7 linked regions of the Homo sapiens genome follow. The protein of the gene in region 3 interacts with the protein of the main gene of each other region in a biochemical or structural test. Each region holds a gene or a part of one and is shown on either strand. Other genes may lie near its edges.

Region 1 (3,500 bases), about 25 Mb from region 3:
GGCCAGGCTGGTCTTGAACTCCTGACCTCAAGTGATCTGCCTGCCTCGGCCTCCCAAAGTGCTGGGATTACAGGCGTGAGCCACCGTGCCTGGCCCCAATTCATTTCTTATTGAAGTATAACTTATATACAATAAAATGCACCGGGTGTGGTGGCTCATGCCTGTAATCCCAGCACTTTGGGAGGCTGAGGTGGGCGGATCACGACGTCAAGAGATCGAGACCATCCTTGCCAACATGGTGAAACCCCATCTCTATTAAAAATACAAAAATTAGCTGGGCATGGTGGCACACACCTGTAGTCCCAGCTACTCAGGAGACTGAGGCAGGAGAATTGCTTGAATCCAGGAGGCAGAGGTTGCAGTGAGCCAAGATCGTACCACTGCACTCCAGCCTGCTGACAGAGTGAGACTCTATCTCAAAAAATAAAATGAAATAAATAAAATGCACAGACTCTTATCACACAGTTTGATGAGTTTTGACAAATGGATTCGCTCATGTATCCACTACCCCAATCACTATACAGAGCATTTCTATTACCCCAGAAATGTCCTTGTGTGCCTCCCTTTTGAAGCCCCCCACCCTGGGGCAACCACCGTTCTGATCTCTCCCACCACAGAGTGGTTTTTTCGGTTCAGAGCCTCACATAAAGGGGATCAGACAGTATGGAATCTTGTCTCTGGCTTCTTTTGCTCAATGTAATGTTTCTGAGATTCATTTATGTTGTATCGGTAGTTCATTTCCTTTGGTTGCTAAGTAGAACTTCACCAAATGGATACACTGCCACTTGTTTATTCCTTCACCTAGTGATGCACATTTGAGTTATTTCCAATTTGGGGATATTTTGAATAAAGCTGCTATGAACTCAAAGGGAATTTTACTTTATCTAGATGGTCTGACCTCCATACAAGTCCTTGTTCACGGATAGCATGTCATTTACAAAAATAATCACCCCCACCCACCAAAGGCCCTGCTCCTCTGGTCTCCCATCTGCTTTCTTTGCATTCTTGATCCCCCCACTTCTGTCTCCTGCCATCCCCAAGAGATGCTGCCACATCTGGATCCTCAGGACTCTGTCTGCCCTGACACTGTCTCAGGTCATCGTGCCCACTCTTACCCATCAAAGCTCTCCGGCAGAAATGCCAGGCTCCCAAAGATCTTCTTGCAGCCAGCAAACTCCTGGATATTGGCACTGGTAACTGCCCTCACCTCTCGCAAGTGCTCCATGCCCAGACCATAGCACACTGAGGAGGTGGGGGTGGGTGGGGAAGGGGCCGTCTCAGCCTTCATACCGGGACAGGTCAACAGCCACATGAGCATCAGGGTCCGGGCCCCTCCCCACACTGACAGGGGATATAGGGACACTTGTAGGGCTGAGGGGGGCCAGGGGTAGAGAGTAGAAGGCAGAGACTAGGTCCCAAGAGGGTCTGAGGAAGGATAGGACAGGGTGGGCTGGGCCAGGCTGCATGCGCAGAGGGACAGGAACTGCAGCTGGCCTCGGGGGCAGTGAGTGGGTACCTCGGGCACAGGGCTTGCTGCACTTCTCACACCGCTGTGTTCCATCCTCTGCTGTCACCTCTTGGTTGTGCAGGGGGCAGACGAGGGTGCAGGATCCCACGTCCGTAGAAAGGTAGTTGTCTAAGGAGATCAGGAACATGTAGCCACATACCCTGGCCCTTCGTGCACCACCATGAGCAGCATTACCGTGCCCAGGCACAAGAAGAATAATATCAACCAATACTTAAATGCCCTACCACGCATCAGCACCTGACATCCATTTACCCCTCACAACAACCAGACGGGATCAGCACTGTGAGATTCCCATTTTGCAAAAAGGGAGACCAAAGCAGAGAGTTCTGTAAATTATTCAAGGTCATTGTGCTAGTGAGTGGAGGAGCGAGGATTTGAACCCAAATGGTCTGGCTCTACATTTTGTCCTCTCCCTAACACAGTCAGCCAGGATCTGAAGGCCCACTCCTGTTCCTGTGAGAGGAGGAAAGAGGTTCCCCAGGTCTGAGCCCAGTCCATAAACGCCCATCAGTAAATAGGTGATCTGTTAAATAAAACTGAGCTAGGCCAGGCACGATGGCTCATGCCTGTAATCCCAGCACTTTGGGAGACCAAGGCGGGTGGATCACTTGAGGTCAGGAGTTCGAGACCAGCTTGGCCAACATAGTGAAACTCCGTCTCTACTAAAAATACAAAAATTACCCAGCCATGGTGGTGCATGCCTGTAGTTCCACCTACTCAAGAGTCTGAGGCACAAGAATTGCTTGAATGCGGAAGGCAGAGGTTGCAGTGAGCCAAAATTGCACCACTGCACTCCAGCCTGGGCAATGGAGCGAGACTCTGCCAAAAAAAAAAAAGTCCGGGTGCAGTGGCTCACGCCTGTAATCCCAGCACTTTCAGAGGCCGAGGCAGGTGGATCGCCTGAAGTCAGGAGTTCGAGACCAGTCTGGCCAACGTGGTGAAACCCTGTCTCTACTAAAAATACAAAATTTAGCGAGGCATGGTGGTGGGCGCCTGTAATCCCAGCTACTCAGGAGGCTGAGACACGAGAATAGCACGAACCTGGGAGGCGGAGGTTGCAGTGAGCCGAGATCGCGCCACTGCGATAGAGCTAACTAAATTCGGTCTCAAAAACAAAACGAAAGGTAAAACTGACCTCACCAGGCTATAGAATAAAAGCTAACATTTAGGAGCACTTAGTACATACCAGGCACCGTTCTAAGAGCTTTACAAATATTAACTCTTTCAAATGTTATAACCATCTTATGCAGTTGGGACTATTCTTGCCCCCATTTTACTGATGAGGAAACTGAGGCACAGCAAGAGGGTCACGTGCCTACTAATTGATAGAGCTGGGTTTCAAACCCAGGCAGTCTGGCTCCCAAGTCTGGGCTCTTAGCTGCCTCTCCTTACTGCCACCTGCTCCACAGCTGTTGAAAGAACAAGGCAGCTCGGCAGGAACTGTCATGACCAGCTCTCAAAGCAAGATGCAGACAGTGCTCCCCATATGCTCCCATTTACAGAAACAAACCTCCCCACCAAAATGAGAAAACTGTGTTTCTCCCTGGCACTCACAGGGACAGGCAGTCACACAGCTGGCGCCGAATGTATACCGGCCCTCGGGATTGGGCATGGACTCAAACGTGTCTGTGTTGTAGGTGACCAGGGCTGGGCAGTGCAGCTCACAGATGCCACTGTGGTTGAAGTGGAGGCAGGCCTGGGGGGACAGGTGGCTGGCTTTCACTGTGCTGTTTTGCCCTGGTGTGCCAGGGGCAATAGGGCAGTACCAGGCAGGGTGCCCACCCCTTGCATCCTGGGGGGTAGAGCACATTGGGCACAAAGCAGAGGCACATACCAGGCAGTCAGAGTGCTTGGGGCCCGTGCAGCCGGCAGCACACTGCTCATGGCAGCAGTCAGTGGGCAGTGGCCCCTTGCAGCGGGCACAGCCACCGGCACAGACAGTGCGCGTCACTGTTGGGCAAAGGGCAGGATG
Region 2 (3,500 bases), on a different chromosome or scaffold from region 3:
GACAATCAATAGTGAGGCATCATCAGTGGCCTGTCGTCGTTCCAGTTTTTCAATGTGCTCACGAAGTTCATCTTCAATGGCCTGCCGCTGATCCAACATTTCTGCCAGCTTGCGATTTTTGGTTTGCAGTGTTCTAATGTCTAGTTCCTCCTGCCCAGTAAACCAATCGTATTAGTCTCCACAAAGAAATAAGAAAAATGAGCCGTTAAACTCAACAAGGTCACAATTATTCATTAGTTATTTTCTATGAATAAAGCTATTGACTTTTAAAAAATCTTACAAGTAATTAAGAAGTAGAAGCAGAAGAGATAAACAACAGGTATATGATGGTGTGAGGAAAGAATAATACACACAAATACACCAGAACCTCAACCCATCTCGCTGTTCTAGTCACATAAACATCTACAAAGTAATGCTGCTTTAAGGCCACCATCCAGCTAGATCACCCTCGACTCCAATCAACACTGTCTTCTATCTCGTAAGCACCATCCTTCCTTCATTAAAGACTTCAGCACCTGGGTCCCTGTCTATCCCAGTTCCTGCCAATATATCTGGTGACTTCACCATACATGTGGACAAACCATCTAATCCTCTAGCATCTAGGCTGTCAGTTTTTCCAGTTCCTTCACTCCAAACATTATCTCCTCCACTGTGCTTCAGCCATGCACTTCAAAAGACACATCTCAGACTTTTGTCATTATCTGGAACTGTACCACATCTGAAATCTTATATTCCAACTTCCCATTCCCTGAAAAACACCACGTCTTTCCAGGTATCTCATGCCCTTAACCCAATATACCAATCCCTTTACCTCATCAAGATCTCCAGAATGTTGAATTCTTTTCTTTCTCCTTTTCGGTCTCCTTCTATCTCTGCTACCTTCCATATCTTAATCATATGCTATATAGTACATTCCTTCAAACACCTGCCTAACAGCCTCCTTGGTTCTCTGCCCTTAATCCTTTTATTCTATCTCTGTCAACAAACCCCAATCTGAATTAATCCAGTTATCTGGCTATTCCATTCCTGTACCCAGTATGCTGAGACTTCTAGAGAAGTTCATCAAACCACCGAAACCGGTGCCTTTACAAAATGAATTCTTAGCCTAAACAGATTTTATAATTTGTCTAGAAATATTTCTTTATCAAGTGAGCTATTTCCCATTCTCCAGCAAGGCAACATCAACCTCTACCAAACCCTGCCCCCTTTTACATCATACAAAACAGATGGCTTTACTTCCTATTTTAATGAGAAAATAGAAGCCATCAGATGGAAAACAATTCCCCATCTCTTTGACCCATTAACACAATTATGCACACATTCTTAAAACCTCAGCTTGTGCTCAGGATCCTGTTCTCTTCTGTCTCTACAAAACCCTCACTCCATTAGTAATTTCACATCCCTCTCAATATTTTTCTCTCTCCAGCTCCTTCCCTAGGACAAACCAGGGAGGGGTTGGTGGGAGGTGGGATTGGAGGATATAACAAGCAAAGAACCAGCATGTGGAAAAATAGTCTTACTTTTCTGAGGAATTAATGAAATCATTATTTTAAAGTGACAATTGTTTATTACACCACCAATTTTTGTTTCATTTTTCTCTTTTCCACTTTAATTAAAACATTCCTAATATGCCAAAGTAGTCAACAGTTTTCCCACTGTACCAGTTTATTAACACTATTAATAAACTATATCCTCAAACTCTTCTCTGAACATTGCCTTTCCCTTCTTGCTCTAACTGAAACTTGGATGAGAAACTGTTTCCCTGCAGGCTTCTCTAGTGGTGGCTGTTTCTCTTCCACACCCCTTGAAGCCAGAGAGGGATGAATATCCTCCTTATTTTCCATTGCCACTTCCAGGCCATTACCCCACCTTCCTCCCTAAAACCTCCTACCTCTGCAGCTCATGCCATTAGCCTATACCACCTGCCGCCATGCTCTGTTGAATTCATCTGTAAATGCCCACGTCGTTTCCTCACATTTCACAAAGACTTAGCACCTACCTTATTATCACTCTCCAATACTTTTCCTGTCATCATTCTTAATGATTTCAATACCCATACAGATAACCTTTCCTATACTTGAATCATCAAGTCACTGACCTCCTCTTCACCAATGATCTTGTCTTCTACCTCCTTCAGCCACCAACTCCCACATTTAGTCTTACTTGTACCTACATGTCCTCTATAAGCTCAATTTCAAACACCTCATTCTTCACAACTACCACTATTTTTCCAGCTCACTCTCTCCAGTTTCCTTACTCCAAAAATTCTTTAACCTCTCCAGGATCTACAATCCATTGGTCCTATACCTTTCACTTCTCTCACCTCCTTCTTTACTGAACTTAAATTCCATGATCAGTCATTATATAGTCATCTACTTTACAGCGATACTCCTTTATAAAGCATTGTCTCTACTCTCTTTTTCCTAATTCCTCTCCCCTCATATTCTCTTAAGCTCACTGAAAACAGGGTGCCATCCCCACTATTTCACCAACAAAGGTGTTTTGGTATCTCCAGTGAACTATTATTAAATATAACACCTCAGTCCTCCCTTTATTCCCCTTGTTCCAACTGAAACCTGAATGAGAACACATCAGCAGCACCTAATCAGCTCCTTCTTGAAATACTTTCTTCATTGAGCTTCTGGGAACCCATTCTCTCTTCCTATCCTCTTACCTCATTGGTCCCTCTTTGTTTGTATCTTTGATTAGTCCTTTCTCATTCCTTGACATGAAAATATTGTAGTGCCCCAGCAGACCTCTTTATGCTTATTCATTAAAGGAGTCTGTAGTCTCATAGATGTAAACACAACTTACAAAATGACGATTCCCAAATATACAGCTTTAGCCCAGACCTCTCTCTAGTATCCAGCTTATTAACTACCTATCCATTCAGAGGTCAAATAAGTATCTCAAACTTATATGTCCCAAACCAAACCAAACTCAATTCATCCTCCATGACTCCCAAAAATCTGCTCCTCTCATACACTTCTCTAGCTCAGTAAGTAAAAATTCCATTACTTTCAAAATCCTGGGATGATCCTCCCTCCTATCTTTCATGTGAGTTATCCAATCCATCAGCAGATCTTATCAATGCTACCTCCACAGTGGTCCAAGCCACCATGATTTCTCATTAAGATTACTGCAAAGGCCTCCTATAGCAAAAACTCTGTGCTAAGTCCTGTCAGCCTGCCAGATTTCAGCACAGCTGTGGTGGACAGCTCCATTTACACTGCCATTGTTCCCACTTCAAGCACACTTTGGAGACTCAGTTTTTCTGTCCCGCAATCACAGCTGGCTCCTAACAGCAATCTCAAAATGCACAGGAGGGACTGCTTTCAATGGCAACCTTCAACCAATTGGAGCGGGGATCAGTGGATACATGCCTCAGATCCCCACCTTTGGAGAGATGCAGTTATAGCGAAAGAGAGTAAGAAGAAGAAAAGAAAAAAGTCTGCTAGCTGGACTCTTGTTTATAATCCTTGCTTTTCTATAGTCTCCAA
Region 3 (3,500 bases):
ATAATTATTTAAATTAATAAAAGGCAAAAAAGCACTAACTACAGTTATATAAGATCACATTGGAAAAATCTACCGTACCCAAATAGCATATAAAAACTCTATTATATTGAAGTAACATCTCACGCAAAATTTAGGCAATTTTATTATATTTTAGCATCAAAGAGTATAAAAGTATTATCCAACAGTTCAGCTACTCACGAGATGATACGGTCCAGTGGTCTGTTACTTTTAATTGCCAAATAAATTTGTAATCCATAATAAACATAAAACAAAAGGAAGAATATGGTTTTATTTCAAAATGTCCATGTGAGGCTGGGGACGGTGGCTCACACCTGTAATCCCAGCACTTTGGGGGGCCAAGACAGGTGGTTCGCTTGTGCTCAGGAGTTTGTGACCAGCCTGGGCAACAAGGCGAAATCCCATCTCTACAAAAAATACAAAAATTAGCCAGGTTGATGGCAAGTGCCTATAGTCCCAGCTACTTGGGAGGCAGAGGTGGGAGGATTGCTTGAGCCCTGGAGGTTGAGGCTGCAGTGAGCTGAGATTGCACCACTGCACCCCAGGCTGGGTGACAGAGACCCTGTCTCAAAGAAAAAAAAAAAAAGTCCACGTCATCTCTATTATCCTGGTCTACTCCTATCACGACCAGTTTATACAGACATATAATATAGTATTGATTTACTCTTCATTTTGGACAAGGCTATATTTTGTTGTAGTATTAAGGACATTTCATTATTCATTTCATTATCATTCACTGTATAAACCCTGAAACATACCATGATAAAAATATAAGTGGGCAAGGATTGCAAGGCATTTGGTGTAGGTATGGACTCAAGGGCAAACGTGCATTCTTTGGGTATGTTCCATACCACTTCTTGACTTCAATGTAAATCAATGTTTTTAAAACCTGGAATAAAAAGTACTTCCACCTTGAATTTATTAAAACCTTCAAATTTTTCAAAGTATAAAAGATAATTTGTTACTCACTTTGGAAATTCACTAGTCTAGGACTTAAGAGATGTAGTTCTAGTCTTAATTCTTGTCATTCCTTGGCTAGGGAAGGTTATTTAAATGATATATTTTGATATTATGGATTAAACAGATTGAATAATATTTTTGAGCAAATGCAGAATAGTATTAAAACTAGTTAAAGGAAACTGTTTCAAAATTCTATGTGATGGAGTCTAAATTAAATTACTACCATTATGTAACATTTGAAAAACTACTCTAGAGATTAAAAAAAGAAGTAACGTCTCCACATAAGCAGCCTTCCCAACATAACACTCATCTGATGTGTCTTGTGTTTTTGGTGTGTGTATGTGTTTTTTAAAAAGAAAATCCAAATTTTTGTTTTGTTTTACCAAGTATTTAGAACACAAATAAGAGCAGAACTCAACTACTTTGAGATTCTACTATGGAATAAAGTTCAGAAAAAGCAGATCACTGTCACATTCCATTTATTCTGCTCAAACCCTGACAGTAGTAAGGTTAAAAAACAAAAAACTGGGCTGGGTTCGGTGGCTCATGACTGTAATCCCAGCACTTTGGGAGGCTAAGGCGGGCAGATCACAAGGTCAGGAGATTGAGACCAGCATGGCCAACATGGTGAAACCCCGTCTCTATTAAAAATACAAAAATTAGCTAGGCGTGGTTGTATGCGCCTGTAGTCCAGCTACCCGGGAGACTGAGGCTGGAGAATCGCTTGAACCCAGGAGGCAGAGGTTGCAGGGAGCCGAGATTGCGCCACTGCACTCCAGCCTGGCGACAGAGTGAGATTCCATCTCAAAAACAACAACAACAAAAAAAACTGACTACGAGCCAGGCATGGTGGCTCGCGCCTGTAATTCCAGCACTTAGGGAGGCGGAGGCTGGAGGATCACTTGAGGCCAGGAGTTTGAGACCAGCCTGGGCAACACAAGATCCTGTTTCTACCAAAAAAAAAAAAATTTTTTTTTTTTTGAGACGGAGTCACACTCTGTCACCAGGCTGGAGTGCAGTAGCACGATCTCGGCTCAGTGCAACCTTTGCCTCCTGGGTTCAAGTGATTCCCCTGCCTCAGCCTCCCGAATAGCTGGGACTACAGGTGTGCGCCACCATACCCAGCTAATCTTTTTTTTTTAGTTTTTAGTAGAGACGGGGTTTCATCATGTTGGCCAGGATGGTCTCAATCTCTTGACCTCGTGATCTGCCCACCTCAGTCTCCCAAAGTGCTGGGATTACAGGTGTGAGCCACTGCACCTGGCCAAATTTTTTTTTTTTTAATTAGGCATGGAAGCATGTGCCTATAGTCCTAGCTCTTTAGGAGGCTGAGGCAGGAGGATCACTTGTACCTAGGAGTTCGAAGCTGCAGTGAGCCATGATCACACCACTGCACTCCATGGAGCCTGGGTGACAGAGTGAGACCCCGTCTCTAAAAAACTAAATAAATAAAATAAACTACTTATTTGATCTATACATATAATTATAGTACTTAGATGCCACCAGTAGTTGATGATGAAGTGTTCCCAATAAACATTCACTCTAGTTATGAGTAAGTAATACAAATTCCACAGAAACTGTCAAGTCCTAAGTATGATGTACAAGGGATTATTTTTAAAAATCCACACTAAAGAAACTATCCATCCGTAGGTTTAAAAGGTGACAGAATGAAAATAAGGCTACAAATACACACATGTAATGCTAAATAACAATTAATGGGAATTATTGAAAACATAATTTTGGTTGGATTTAAGATTAGGGAAAGCAGAATTACCACAATGATCCTTGGAACATTTCAATACAGAGCTACAGTGTTTCTCCATTTATATAAAACGAATTTTCACACATAGAAAAGAATTCTTGTAGTAAATATAATATCAGAAATAAATCACTGGCTGGGTGTGGTGGCTCACACCTGTAATCCCAGCACTTCGGAAGGCTGGGGCAGGCAGATTGTTTGAGCTCAGAAGTTCGAGAATAGCCTGGGCAACATGGCAAAACCCCATCTCTACAAAAAAAAAAAAACAAAAACTAGCCGGGTGTGGTGGCTTGTACCTGTAGTCCCAGCTACTCAGGAGGCTGAGGTGGGAGGCTCTCTTGAGCCCAGGATGGGGAGGTTGCAGTGAGCTGAGATCACGCCACTACACTCCAGCCTGGGTGACAGAGGGAGACCCTGTCTCCAAAAAAAAAAAAAAAAAAAAAAAGAAAGAAAATTAATTTGACTTGACCTGTGAGTTACAAATGTAGCAGAAGCATTCTACCTTCTGTACTGAAACATTCTGAGGACCATCATGATATGTACATGTGTATACACACATGCATGCATACACATTCATTTAACAAGGAAAAAAGGCATAACAAATGGAAGCAAAGAGAACCAGTATTCAGTTCAGGTTATATATCATTTAAATCTCAAAACTGTTCCTGACAATGTAAAGCAGAGGCAATAATGTACTTAAAGAGAGAGATGGAGAAAACACAGGGCCTGCAGTCTCATGGGACTCAGATGGTCTACTGGGGAG
Region 4 (3,500 bases), on a different chromosome or scaffold from region 3:
GAAACCATGGAAACAAATCTGTATTTTGAGTTGGTAGGTAGGAAAAGACACCATGCTGGCTGTTAGGCAAGGCCTGAGATGACAGGAAAGCCCTTTTGGCTGTGCCTTTACTACTCAAGAAATGTCTGAAATAATGCATCACGTAAGGTGAGAGAGTACTCCTTTCACATCCGGGTACATCCTCACCCTCCTGTGGTAGAAGGGTAAACTGATGCCTGGGCTCTGAATACAAGTCCCATTCAACACTGCCCAGCACTGCACCCAGCTCTGCTACCCCATTCTTATCACCAGACTCCATGTTAAACATCCTCTGTACAGAGGCCCTTTGAGGCCCAAGAGGTCTCCCTCCAATACTTGGAACACATCTTTCTTCTCTTAGCACCTTCACAGCCCAAATTTCAGTTTCTAAATGATTTCTTCCTTAAAATTGATGGCTCTTCCACCCCCGAACTTTTGCCCCAGGATGCATCACAAATAACCTCCACAAGGCCCACTGTACTTCTGTCATGCAAACCATCATTCTGGCATGTGTAACTAAGATATACTGATGCCCAATTATCACAATCTGTCTGCCCTCACAATAATGGAGCTCATTTACTCCCTGGCAAATCCCACTCTCCCGGCCCCCTCCACCCCACGGTGTTTAGTCATATATCCAGCCTCTATTGGCGCTTGATAAAATGCTTCCAAGATGTTGAGTCTGTCTCATATCAAAAGGGGCCTTTTCATTGTGAGCAGGCCTACTCTTGGTACCATGATCACCTACAATCTTGTATGGTTCCCTAGGCTGTACTATTGCCTACTGTTTTTTTTTTTTTTTGAGACAGAGTTTCGCCCTTGTCGCCCAGGCTTGAGTGCAGTGGCGCAGTCTCAGTTCACTGCAACCTCTGCCTCCCAGGTTCAAGTGATTCTCCTGCCTCAGCCTCCCAAGTAGCTGGGATTACAAGTGCCTGCCACCACGCCCAGCTAATTTTTTGTATTTTTAGTAGAGATTGGGTTTTGCCATGTTGGGCAGGCTGGTCTCAAACTCCTGACCTCTGGTGATCCTCCTGCCTCAGCCTCCCAAAGTGCTGGATTACAGGTGTGAGCTACGACGTCTGGCCTTATACTATTGCATACTGTTAAATGAATATTCCTACACAGTACCCTCTCCCATCTTGGGGACTCTTGAGTTGCTCTGAGGCAGGCAGGTAGCCTGTAATATGCTCTTCAATCAAACACTTTTATTCCAGGGGACTCTCCTCAAGTGAGAACCTCCCCCTATCTTGCGAGGGTCAGTGATGTCCAAGGTTTGCAGCACAAGAAAAATACTCACAGACCATGCCTCAAGGTTTTAAGTCAAGGTCTCTAAATTTCTTATGGGCAAGATTCTGGTTGTTCCAAGATGCCCAGGCAGAAATAATGTTTCCAAGAGAACCAAAGAGCTGCTTCCAAAACATACATACTGCCACAGATGGAAAAGACCCTTCCAGTTCATGCTTACAGACATGCAGCAATTAACAGCCACTCTCTGGAGAAAATGTTAGGATACAACCAGTAATATACATTCACTACTAGGCTTTTGAGAAATAAGCTATGAAAATGCCAACCTGACATTGCTTCCCCAAGCCAATGGATCTTTCTATGTATGGTGCATCAATCTAAGTTAGGTAAGAGGGCTATAACTTGACACCAATCCTGAAGATGTCATCACATTTCTACCTAGTTTGTCACAACTGGGCCCTGTGTCCATATAAAACCAGTTTTCCTATCAGGACCACAAAAACACCTATGTCCAAGCATCCATGCTTGGCTGAGGCTGAATTAACACCCTCTGTATTGGTTTGCCACCTTCAGGGTACATCCCAAAATTCTGTTAGGCTGGTATTTGTTGTATTTTTTCCATCTATACTTGGGCCAGAAAGTATCTTAGAGTTCCTATTAGCATAAGAGCAATCATCGTGGCTCACTCTGTATTTGAATAAAAAAGAGCACAAACTATAGGACGGGCGCAGTGGCTCACGCCTGTAATCCCAGCACTTTGGGAGGCAGGCAGATCACGAGGTCAGGAGATCCAGACCATCCTGGCTAACACGGTGAAACCCTGTCTCTACTAAAAATACAAAAAACTAGCCAGGCGTGGTGGCGGGCGCCTGTAGTCCCGGCTACTCCGGAGGATGAGGCAGGAGAATGGCGTGAACCCAGGAGGCAGAGGTTGCAGTTAGCAGAGATCACGCCACTGCACTCCAGCCTGGGCGACAGAGCGAGACTCTGTCTCAAAAAAAAAAAAAAAAAAAAGGACTACAAACTATGAAAGAGGGTTTTGAACATGGCAGTATTCATCTCTTAGAAAGCGCTTTGGTGCTGCCAAACATTTTCCGTTACTTCACAGAACCTTGATGTCACCTATAAAAACCGTTTTACAAATGAGGAAGGCTCAAAGGTCAGGAGCTTACTGATGGTCAAACAACTATCAGGAAGCCCTACAATGAGGGACCCTGGAGTTCTGAGCAGCTGATCTAACCCACATTCCTCACACAGTGCCACAAAAGGAGGCTAGGTGGCCCTAGGACAGAAAGAAATAAGTAATGTGGACAAGTAGAAGTGGCCAGGCACGGTGGCTCATGCATGTAATCCCAGCACTTTGGGAGGCCAAGGCGGGCGGATCACCTGACGTCAAAAGTTCGAGACCAGCCTGGCCAACATGGCGAAACCTCGTCTCTACTAAAAATACAAAGATTAGCTGGGCTTGGTGGCAGGCACCTGTAATCCCAGCTCCTCGGGAGGCTGAGATAGGAGAATTGCTTGAACTCAGGAGGCGGAGGTTGTTGTAAACCAAGATCATGCCATTGCACTCCAACCTGGGTGATAGAGGGAGACTCTGTCTCTAGACAAACAAACAAAAACAAAGTAAGAAAGGAGAAAGGGGATGAATGGAAGCTAATATATCAAGTGTTAGCAGCATATGAGACATATAACTGAATGCTCAAGAAAAATGAGAATGTTGGAGAAGAGCACCTCATTCTAGTTTTAGGGGTTTTTTCCTTTCAGCTGACCCACTTCAAAAGATGTATAGGAGAGCTGGGCACGCTGGCTTGCGCCTGTAAGCCCAGCCACTTGGGGCTGAGATGGAAGAACTTGAGCCCAGTTGTTTGAAACCAGCTGGACCAACACAAGACCTCATCTCTAAAAACATAAATTACCCAGGTGTGGTGGCACATACCTACAGTGCCAGCTATTTGGGAGGCTGAGGTGGAAGGATCACTTGAGCCCAAGAGTTCAAGGCTGCATGATCATGTCACAGCACTGCAGGCCTGGGAGACAAAGTACAATCCCTGTCTCTTTATTTAAGAGAAAAAAAAAAAAGTATGAGAGGCCAAGCAAAGCATTACTTAGACAACAAAAGGAAGCAGAAGATTAAAAAAAAAAACAAAAACAAACCAAAACCAAAATTAAAACCCAAAAAAACCCTCCAATTTCACAAGAGCTTTGTTCCAGTCTTGCCAGAGGGCTTTTAGGAC
Region 5 (3,500 bases), on a different chromosome or scaffold from region 3:
AGTCTGTCAGCTGATCTCATGGGATTATAAGAACCTTATTCCCAGTTGATCCCTGAGTAGGCCACTTCCCTTTTTCCTACCTGAATTACCATGAGCCAAGTTTGTAAATGGGGTAACAAGAATACATATTTTGTTAAGAGGGAAACAAATTCATCACTTCAACTTTATAATATTTTGTTCCATGCAAAGATCATTTACAAAGATTGGTCCCATAATATTTACCTAGAAGGAATCACTCAGATAAAGGCATCACTTACCAATAAAGCATTTAATTCATCCTATTCAAAATGTCCTCAATAAATTATCTTTACTCTGAGCCCTAAAAGATACACTGTCTATTAGACTTGAAAGAATAGTCATTTAGTAGAGCTTAAATCAATATATGAAATATAAATTTTAATTTTTTTGTAGAAACAGATTTTCCTTTTATTGCCCAGGCTGATCTAGAACTCCTGGATCAAGCAATCCTCCAGCCTCGGCCTCCCAAAGTGATGGGATTGCAGGGGTGACCAGCTGTGCCTGACATAATATTTTATTATCATGAAACATTTTTCTCATTTTTCCCTGTTTTACTCATCTGCATGGATTTGAATATCTACATTTACTTCTTTTTTCAAATTCTAAAGTATAGACTCTCAAGAAGATGACATATTTTTAAAATAATTACATTGGATTTAAAAACATATAGTGTAGGAGCAACTAGTAAAAGTTGACAGATACCACATCCAGTGAAATTACCCCCAGTTAAAATAATAATAATAATAATAATAATAATAATAATAATAATAATAATCATCATCATCATCATTAGATAATGGGCTGAGCGCGGTGGCTCATGCTTGTAATCCCAGCACTTTGGGAGGTCGAGGCGGGCGGATCACTAGGTCAGGAGATTGAGACCATCCTGGCTAACATGGTGAAACTCCGTCTCTACTAAAAATACAAAAACATTAGCCGGGCACGGTGGTAGGCGCCTGTAGTCCCAGCTACTCGGAGGCTGAGGCAGGAGAATGGTGTGAACCCAGGACGCGGAGCTTGCAGTGAGCCAAGATCGCGCCACTGCACTCCAGCCTGGGCGACAGAGCGAGACTCCGTCTCAAAAAAATAAAAAATAAAAAAAAAAAAGAATCTTTAAAAATCAGATAATACAGGGAGTCTAGGTGTGCATATAGCACATAAAATTTTTATTAAAAATCTTATGGGAATGTTTTTAATACTTATATTTTAATGCATGCTTCTAATCTTATTTATCTTTCTTTAGAGGCTCAATTTTCCAATTATTTGTACTAATAGTTTGACCTAAAAGTGGAGTAAAATTTGCCTTACTGGCGTACATATCAAACATTTGGAAGATGAGATGTAGGAGAGAAGAAGGAAAAAAAAAAAGAAAAAGGGCATTCATTGCAGGGCAGGATGCTAACTTAATTGTAAATGTACACACTCTTTCTAAATTTCCAAGTGAACAATCCTAGGTGCAATTAGAGCTTTATTGTATTTTGATAAATGATTCAGAAAGCTTTGTAAAAAATCCAAGGAGACATTTTAAAGAAATTTATGATCAGTAATAGCAGTCTCTCTAACACTTGACATAACAAGAGGAAATCATAAAATGAATAGCAAGGAAATTACAGTTAAAGTAACGTTAGGTTTCAACAGTAATATATGGCATTTTTGGCTCCATGTTATATCACTTTAAAAAATCTAAAGATAGTTCATCTCCTGTGTTAAAGAAACAACAACAACATATTTTTTGCTTACAGTAAGTTGTTATTTTAAAAAGAGACGTGGAAAGAACGGTTTTCTCTATAGAACTAAAAAGATATAGAATAATTCAGTTCTACATATGTCAATTCAAACTTGTCTGTGGCAGATTATGCTTACTGGCACTGTTCAAGGCATTCCCCTCTTCCTTCCCCACTTTATCATGGCCTGGCATTTTTCCTCACCACCCAGAAGGGTTTCATTCCTCCAAACTTCATTCCACCTTTAGCTGCCAAGAGCTGATGGCTTTTTCTTTTGCCTAAAGCCATTTCCTTCCAGCAAGGCAGAGGAAAGGGTAAGTGATACCTTCAATGAAGAAATTTCATTTTTTAGAATGGCAGGACACCAAAATTGTTATCTCATATTCCACAAAAGTATTCTACCCACATTCTCTGGATGCTCTCATAAATCCTCATATAAAATATTTTTATACAATTTTATAATATCTATTTTAATATGACCTTGCCTCTCAAGTGGTAATCTAACTCTACACAGTTCTAAAGGAAGATGTCATAATACTTCTGTAAAGAATAAATTAGCTAATTTGTGATGTGTAATATGAAGGACCATCTTCAATTAGTACACAGATGCCCTCCAATACAACATCCACAATATGTCCTCTTCAGAGCAAATTTTTAAAAATCCCTGCTCACAATTAGTGAAATAATTTAGTCCTTCAAGATGTAATGTGGTAACCAAATTATTTACCAAAAATCTGTGGCTGGCCATTTGCTACATAAAAAAATCATTAATCAGTTTGTCACCTAATTGAAAGCTAAATTTTCAACCAAATGTTAATAGCAAAACTAGTTGTTTGTTTAATATCTTTAAGCATAGTCTGCAAAAATAAAGGGGGGAGGCAAATCACCATACAAAGTGTGTGTGTGTGTGTGTGTGAGTGTGAGTGTGTGTGTGGTAAAATTCTAGTATGAAAATGACACAATCATTTATGAGCATGAAGTTTGCAGTCCTTACTTCCACTCTAATAACAGTGATGGGTCTTCATGGATAAGCCCACATTGCCTCTCTGAACCTTCCTTAGAGAATGCTTCAAATATTTGGATAATGTGCCCTTTGTACCTGGGGCAAACATCAATTTAGACCGTGTGGAAACCTAACTTATGGCCTCCGCCTCATCTGACTACATTTCTATCAACTGAGCTCACATAAGCATCTATGTTTATTTTAAAAGAATATTTTAAATTCATAGTCAGTGACTATTGACTGGCCCTCAAATTTCTGTTAGATGATACAGATTTAAACCTAACAAGGTTATCATTTTAGATTTGGAGTCACTTATAACCATATTAGTTTATGCAATCCAATTTTTTCTTAAAATATATTTTAATACATTTGTGGTCACTGCCTTTCTAAGAATGCATTACAAATTACTTACCTTTAAGTACATTATCACCTACACTGATAAAAGAGAGAATACATCTCAGGATATTTTAATTTTACCTCCTCAATATCATACCATGATATTGTAAAAATACTAAATGCTTGACAAATAAAAAATAGAATCACAAAATTCATGTTTCCAGGGTTAATATGCTTTATTCTGGAAGAATCCATATTTTTGTATTTTATTATTTATATAAATATCTACGAACCCCCTACTACTTGATGCCAGGCACTATTCTGGAAGCTAAGTCAACAATGAAGACATAGTCTGGGTTCCCTTGGAGTATTTGGTATGCAAATTCACAAAATACCTGCATGCTGTAACAAGCAGTATG
Region 6 (3,500 bases), on a different chromosome or scaffold from region 3:
GTCTCTACTAAAAATACAAAAAAATTAGCTGGGTGTGGTGGCACGCACCTGTATCCCAGCTATGCAGGAGGCTGAGGAGGAGAAATGCTTGAACCCAGGAGGTGGAGGTTGCAGTGAGCAGGGATCACGCCACTGCACTCCAGCCTGGGTGACAGAGTGAGACTCCATCTCCAAAAAAAAAAAAAAGATGAACCTAAACCTAACATACTGCCCTAGGCACTGGAGGAAATACAAAAGAAATGTGATCCAGCCCTGCCAACAATCTTTATCAAGCGAAGATGTACAACCAAGAAACAATTAGACATAAAATTAATAGAATAAGGCTGTATACAAGGAAGTTCTGGCTGGGCACAGTGGCTCACGCTTGTAATCCCAGCAGTTTGGGAGGCTGAGGCAGGTGGATCACTTGAGGTCAGGAGTTCGAGACCAGCATGGCCAACATGGCAAAACCCTGTCTCTACCAAAAATACAAAAAAATTAGCTAGGCATGGTGGACGCTTGAACGAAGGTGGAGGTTGCAGTGAGCCGAGATCGTGCCACCGCACTCCAGCCTGGGTGACAGAGGGAGACTCCATCTCAAAAAAAAAAAAAAAAAATTAAAAATTAAAAACAAATCAAAACAAAACAAAACAAAAGGAAGTACTATATTGTCCAAACACAAGGGGCAATGACTAAGTGCTATGGTGAATGAAAATCAATGTTAATCAATTTAAGCCTTGAATGAGATAACATTATATAACACTAGATATAGTGTTTTAATTTATATAACATTATAACACTATAATAGCCAAAATAAAAATGACTGACATCAGCATTTTTATGGTGCTACAAGGGTACCGTCTAGTAAGGGTACAGAGCAACTGGAATGCTCATACACTGCAGGTGGGAATATAAAATGGTACAAACCCTTAGTTTCTTTTTAAAGTTACATATATCTACCACATGACCTAGTAATTTCATTCTTAGGTATTTATCCAAAGGAAATAAAAACATATGTTTACAAAAACACTCGTATAACAATGTTCATAGAAGACTTTTTCATAATAGCCAGAAACTGGAGATAACTCAAACACCCATCAACAGGAGAATGGATAAACAAATTATGATATAATTCATCCAATGGAATACTATTCAGTAATAAGAAGGAATAAACCACAGATTACAGTAGACATTATGCAGAATGAAAGAAGCCAGATACAAAAATTGTACATTCAATAATTCCATTTATATAAAGTTCTAAAACAAGCAAAACTAACCTATGAAACTCTTGAGGGGGTAGGAATACAAATGTTTAGATTTTGTAATTACATGAACGTATGCTATTGTCAAAAACTCACTGAACTAAACCCTTAAGAACTGTGCATTTTACTGTATGTTAAAAAACATGAATGAGAAAACTGATTCACACAGTAAAGACAGTTGCCAAAGTAATCTGCAATGAGGAAATCAATGAAGGATCTGGGGTTAGGGAGTAATATAATGAAAAAGAAGCTAAAGGAAGACCTGCACATTATGGTTTTGTACGTCATGTCTTGGTTTAGACTACACTTTAGAGGGGATATGACGGTAGGAAAACCTGGTTGGATGTATTACAGAGACATAAACATATAAATGAGTAAGACCCGAGACCAGAATGAGGGTAATGGAGATGGAAACAAAAATCAAACAGAAAGAGCTTTTAAGTGAAAAATTAGATCTTATAAAAGGACCACGTAATTTTAAATGACTCTAAAGAATTGTATTCCAGACACCTGAATGATTGATGGGATTAATACACGAGATGGGTATTGGGATATGGCTTATGACAGAAGATGATGCATTTAATTTTAGAACCATAGAGACAAGGTAACAAGATTTAAATCAGGAAGAATTTAATTGTAAAATCTTATAGAAAAATATGGAAGAAGTCAGCTACACAGAGACAGCAGTTGAAAATGAATCATTCGGCTGGGCATGGTGGCTCACGCCTGTAATCCCAGCACTTCGGGAGGCCAAGGCAGGTGGATCACTTGAGCTCAGGAGTTCAAGACCAGCCTGGGCAACATGGTGAAACCCCACCTCTACTAAAAATACAGAAAATCAGCCAGGTGTGGTGGCATGTACCTGTAGTCCCAGCTACTTGGGAGGCTGAGTTGGGAGGATCCCTTGAGCCTGGGAGGTGGAGGTTGCAGTGAGCCGAGATCATACCACTGCACTCCAGCCTGGGTGACAGAGTAAGAATGTCTCAAAACAAAAACAAAATGAGGCCAGGCGCGGTGGCTCATGCCTGTAATCCCAGCACTTTGGGAGGCTGAGGTGGGTGGATCACCTCAGGTCAGGCGTTCAAGACCAGCCTGGCAAACATGGCGAAACCCCGTCTCTACTAAAATACAAAAGTTAGCCGGGTATGGTGGTGGGCACTTGTAGTCCCAGCTACTTGGGAGGCTGAGGCAGGAGCATCGCTTGAACCCAAGAGGCGGAGGTTGCAATGAGCCAAGATCGTGCCACTGTACTCCAGCCTGGGCGACAGAGTGAGACTCCATCTCAAAAGCAAAACAAAACAAAAATAATAATAATTCAAAAAGGGGTCAGATATGGTAGCTCACGGCTGTAATCCCAGCACTTTAGGAAGATGAGGTGGGAAGATCACTTGACCCCAGAAGTTTTAGACTAGCGTGGGCAACACGATGAGACCGCATCTCTACAAAAAAATAAAACAATTGGCTGGGTATGGTGGTAGCACACGCCTGTAGTCCCAGCTACTCAGGAGGCTCAGATGGGAGAATTGCTTGGGCCTGAGAGGTCGAGGCTGCAGTAAGCTGTGATGGCACCACTGCACCCTAAGCCTGGGCGACAGAGTGAGAACCTGTCTCAAAAAAAAAAAAAAAAAAAAAAAGGAACTGTAATAAAAAATGTCACTTATATGGTAATTAACAGCTCTTTTTTTTCTTTTTTAAATTAATATTTTCTTCAGATCAGATTAACAGCTATCTCATGTGTAACTACTTTCCTATGTATTTAATTAAGAAATGCAACAAACAAGAGGGGATGGGGCGAGAGGGGGAGATAGAGAGAGATGGGGCACAGAGGCCTGTTTGAAGGCAGAAGGGTGTTGCAGGAAAGAAGACTGGCAATTTTAGAGAAGTACCACATAAATATGGATTCAAAGAAACAGAAAAAATCTAGAATCTTGCTATTCAAAGTGTAGCTCTCAGACATTCAATATCACCTGGGAGTTTGTGAGAAATGCAGAAACCTGTGCCCCACCTTAGACCCACAGAATCATAATCAGCATTTTAGCAAGACCACAGGTGATAGGACACTGTATTTTCAAGTTTCCACACACAGCATTGATTTTTTTGTTCAAACAGTTATTTTATTTATTTATTTTTTGAGACAGTCTCACTCTGTTGCCCAGGCTGGAGTGCAATGGCACGATCTTGGCTCACTGCAACCTCTGCCTCCCAGGTTCAAGCAATTCTCCTGCCTCACCCTGTCAAGTGGCTGGGACTACAGGTGTG
Region 7 (3,500 bases), on a different chromosome or scaffold from region 3:
AAAAGTGACAAAGGAAAAAACAGGCAAATTGAATTTCAATAAAATAAAAACTTCCATGTTTCAGTGGACACTACCAAGAAAGTAAAAAGAAAATCCACAGAATGGGAGAAAAATTTGTAAATTAACTATTTAATAAGGAACCTGTATCTAGAGAACTTTTACAATGCAATAATAAAAAGACAAAATAACCAAATTTTTTAAATGGGCAAAGAATCTGGACAGACATCCAAAAGACATACAAATGGCCAATAAGCAGGTGAAAAGATACTCAACATCATTACCTATCAAGAAAATGCAAATCAAAACTACAATGAGATACTACTTCATATCCACTAAGATGGCTATATATTAAAAAAAAGAACATAAGTGCTGACGAGGTGAAAAAACTGGAACCCTCATACACTGCTGGTGGCAATGTAAAATTACGGCCACTTAGAAAAACAGTCTAGCAGTTCCTTAAAAAGTTAAACAGGGACCTAGCAATTCCACTTACAGGTATATACACGAGAAATGAAAACTTGTAATGGATGTTCATAGCAGGATTATTCAAAATAGGCAAAAATTGGAAATTCAAATGTCTATCAATTGATAAATGGATATATCAAATGTGTTATATCTATACAATGGAATATGGTCACATACCACATAACAACATTTAGGTCAATAACAGACACATTATGTCTGGCTAGACACAGTGGCTCATGCCTATAATCCCAACACTTTGGAAGACTAAGGTGGGAGGAGTGCTTGAGGCCAGGAGTTCAAGACCAGCCTGGGCAACACAGCAAGATCCTCATTTCTACAAAAAAATAAAAATAAAAAATAGACACAGTGGTGCTTGCCTGTAGTCCTAGCTAATTGGGAGGATGAGGCAGTGGAATTGCTTGAGCCCAGGAGATCAAGGGCAATGTGAGCCAATATTGGGCTACTGCATTTCAGTCTGGGTGACAGAGCCAGACCCTGTCTCTAAAAACAAAAAAGATCATAATATTGTATTTTTACTCTACCTTTTCTATGTTTAGATATATATATATACACACACACACATATATATATTTATACACACACACATATATATATACTTACCATTGTATTAGAATTGACTACAGTATGCACTACAGTAACATGTTGTACAGGTTTTTTTTGCCTAGGAGCAATAGGCAATACATCCTAGGTATGTAGTAGGCAATCCCATCTAGATTTGTGTAAGTACCCCCTTAAGATGTTCACACAACGACAAAATTGCCTAACCATACATTTCTCAGAAGTTATCCTTGTCATTAAGTGACTCATGACTGTATCATTCAGCAGTAAAAATAAACATTGATATATGCTATAACATGCATGAACCTAGAAAACATGTATGCTAAGTAAAAGAAGCAAGATGCAAAAATCGCACATACTATACGATTCCATTTATATAAAATATCCAGAATAGGCAAATATATAAAGACAGAAAATAGATTAGTAGCTGCCTAGAACAGAGGAGTTTGGGAGAGAAATGGGAGGTGACTATTAATGGGTATGAGGTTCCTTTTTGGATTCCAAAATTGATTATGGTCATGGCTGCACAACTCTTTCGAGTATACTAAAACCCAGTGAACTGTCCACTTTAAGTGGGCAAATTGTAAGGTATGTGAATAGCATCACAATAAAGCTGTTTTATATATACATATATATTTTAAAAGCAAAGAATGGAGGGGCCACAAATTTGGATGAGATTAGAGGTGGTTTTAGAGACTGACTTTGAACTAGGTTTTGAAATGAAAGTCAGTAATTTTTAAGAAGTATCTGAAACAACAGAAATGGGGCATAAAGGCCCCAAAAGCAGGAAAAAGCAAATAATTTGCAGGAAATGGGAGACACTATCTGTATCAAAACAGAGATATGTTAATTAGAAATGAGACTGCTGAGACTACAAGGCTAAAACAAGAAGACTCACAAAATTCTAGAGGCTCTTGATATTAATAACAAATGAAAATGTGTTTAACAAGTATTACAAAGCTGTCATTTCTTGATTTTAATACTTTCAAGTATTTGTCTTTCAAAAAGTTGCTTCCATAATCTGGGTATGGCTCTATCACACATAGGCAGGCAGTACACTTAGAATTTAAAATGCAAGCTTTAAGTTAGACCTCCTGCTCTACCACTGACTAAGTGTTATGACCATATACATTTAACTATCCCAGTTTCTGTACTGGTAAAATGAGAATACTACCATGTATTTCATATATGTAATATATTTGGAATAAATATATTACATTATATATGGAACCTGTATCTAGAGAACTTTTAAAATGCTCTTAACATAGTAAATGAGTAATAAGTTATTGTAAACCATAGCCACAACTATGTGGTACATATAAATACTTAGCTACATCTCTCCTGAGAATTAAAAAGTTCTTCAGCTTGAAATCCATTCAAATGTATGAATATAAATTTCCCATCTTTTTATCAAAGGCAAATCTCTTGACTAACCTGTTAAACTTTGTTAAGCTGTAAAAACATATGGGTAAATAACAGAAATCAATCCAGATTACCAGGTGTTTTCTACCTGGAACAAGGAACTTGATGCTCTTTTCAGTTAAGTAACTTTGTCTCTAAATGTTCTCAGGTCTTGATTTAACTGGCTCTAAACTTAGAATACCCTGGCCTCAGAGCCACCCTTGAACTTCTTTGTGAGATCTTTGACTTCCTTCACAAAGAAGTCCTTGCTACTGGTACTTCTGCTAAATGATTTTCTCTTATGGTGGGGAATTACCACGCTAATATCTGGGTCTTCTCAAAACTAAAGGGAGAATGGAAGGGACAGTTAGCATTCTTAGTTCTCCATTCCTTGGAGGAAAAAAAGGCATCATTACTCTTTTCTTTTTGGAGAGCTATAAGGAAACCATGTAGAATCTTAGTGATGGAAGTAGTAAAGGCAGTCTAGACATAATCAAATGCAGGTTAATCCTACAGGGGTTTTCTGTTTTATATTATAATTGGAACTTATTTCCTTCTTTGTAAGGAGCCATTTTTGACCCTTCCCTCAAATAATTTTAATCTGTATCCAAAACTGAGGCTACTTACTAGGCTTATGCTAGATTTCTTGAATAGTGACTTTTGTGTAAACTGGGTGATAAAATCTAAAGGATCTACATTCCCCTGTTTAAAGGATAAATGGGAGAACGAGTCTGGCGAAGTGGCTTCAGAGGAATGAATATGAGACACAGAATGTGAATTACAGTGGTAAGTGAGGAAATTAAAAGAAACAAGCTAGACTGACATTACTCAGGGAAGAAAAAAAGTATTTAGTAATTGTTGAAAAATTCTATACAAGGACTAAGAAAAAAGAGAAATTCCCATGGTTTAATGAAATATTGTTTGAATTACATTCGAGTAGTGACAGCATAAAACCATTTTTAATACTAAGGATCTATTCTTAGTATTAGATAGTATCTAGTACTTTAAATCTTTATAAACCAGGTATTTAAACCAGCTCTGAAATCATCAAAGAT

Evidence for each region.
Region 1: of the proteins of SMURF2 (region 3) and ERBB2, one has a biochemical effect on the other in vitro, tested with the Homo sapiens proteins (one study listed by BioGRID).
Region 2: the proteins of SMURF2 (region 3) and RNF20 form a complex in vitro, tested with the Homo sapiens proteins (one study listed by BioGRID).
Region 4: of the proteins of SMURF2 (region 3) and RHOA, one has a biochemical effect on the other in vitro, tested with the Homo sapiens proteins (3 studies listed by BioGRID, with this or other methods).
Region 5: the proteins of SMURF2 (region 3) and SCN9A interact in a surface display test, tested with the Homo sapiens proteins (one large-scale study listed by IntAct).
Region 6: the proteins of SMURF2 (region 3) and NEDD8 form a complex in vitro, tested with the Homo sapiens proteins (one study listed by BioGRID).
Region 7: of the proteins of SMURF2 (region 3) and USP15, one has a biochemical effect on the other in vitro, tested with the Homo sapiens proteins (one study listed by BioGRID).

Annotation. Positions count from the first base shown.
Region 1 is NC_000017.11:39,710,064-39,713,563, reverse strand, and holds part of ERBB2 (receptor tyrosine-protein kinase erbB-2 isoform a precursor), read right to left. Parts: intron 3,479-3,500; coding exon 3,363-3,478; intron 3,225-3,362; coding exon 3,083-3,224; intron 1,637-3,082; coding exon 1,517-1,636; intron 1,243-1,516; coding exon 1,116-1,242; intron 412-1,115; coding exon of another isoform or gene 295-411; intron 1-294. UniProt on the Homo sapiens protein: Protein tyrosine kinase that is part of several cell surface receptor complexes, but that apparently needs a coreceptor for ligand binding. Essential component of a neuregulin-receptor complex, although neuregulins do not interact with it alone.
Region 2 is NC_000009.12:101,536,853-101,540,352, reverse strand, and holds part of RNF20 (E3 ubiquitin-protein ligase BRE1A), read right to left. Parts: intron 151-3,500; coding exon 1-150. UniProt on the Homo sapiens protein: Component of the RNF20/40 E3 ubiquitin-protein ligase complex that mediates monoubiquitination of 'Lys-120' of histone H2B (H2BK120ub1).
Region 3 is NC_000017.11:64,557,808-64,561,307, forward strand, and holds part of SMURF2 (E3 ubiquitin-protein ligase SMURF2), read right to left. Parts: intron 1-3,500. UniProt on the Homo sapiens protein: E3 ubiquitin-protein ligase which accepts ubiquitin from an E2 ubiquitin-conjugating enzyme in the form of a thioester and then directly transfers the ubiquitin to targeted substrates.
Region 4 is NC_000003.12:49,370,477-49,373,976, forward strand, and holds part of RHOA (transforming protein RhoA isoform 1 precursor), read right to left. Parts: intron 1-3,500. UniProt on the Homo sapiens protein: Small GTPase which cycles between an active GTP-bound and an inactive GDP-bound state.
Region 5 is NC_000002.12:166,369,445-166,372,944, forward strand, and holds part of SCN9A (sodium channel protein type 9 subunit alpha), read right to left. Parts: intron 1-3,500. UniProt on the Homo sapiens protein: Pore-forming subunit of Nav1.7, a voltage-gated sodium (Nav) channel that directly mediates the depolarizing phase of action potentials in excitable membranes.
Region 6 is NC_000014.9:24,225,868-24,229,367, forward strand, and holds part of NEDD8 (ubiquitin-like protein NEDD8), read right to left. Parts: intron 1-3,500. UniProt on the Homo sapiens protein: Ubiquitin-like protein which plays an important role in cell cycle control and embryogenesis via its conjugation to a limited number of cellular proteins, such as cullins or p53/TP53.
Region 7 is NC_000012.12:62,266,904-62,270,403, reverse strand, and holds part of USP15 (ubiquitin carboxyl-terminal hydrolase 15), read right to left. Parts: intron 1-3,500. UniProt on the Homo sapiens protein: Hydrolase that removes conjugated ubiquitin from target proteins and regulates various pathways such as the TGF-beta receptor signaling, NF-kappa-B and RNF41/NRDP1-PRKN pathways.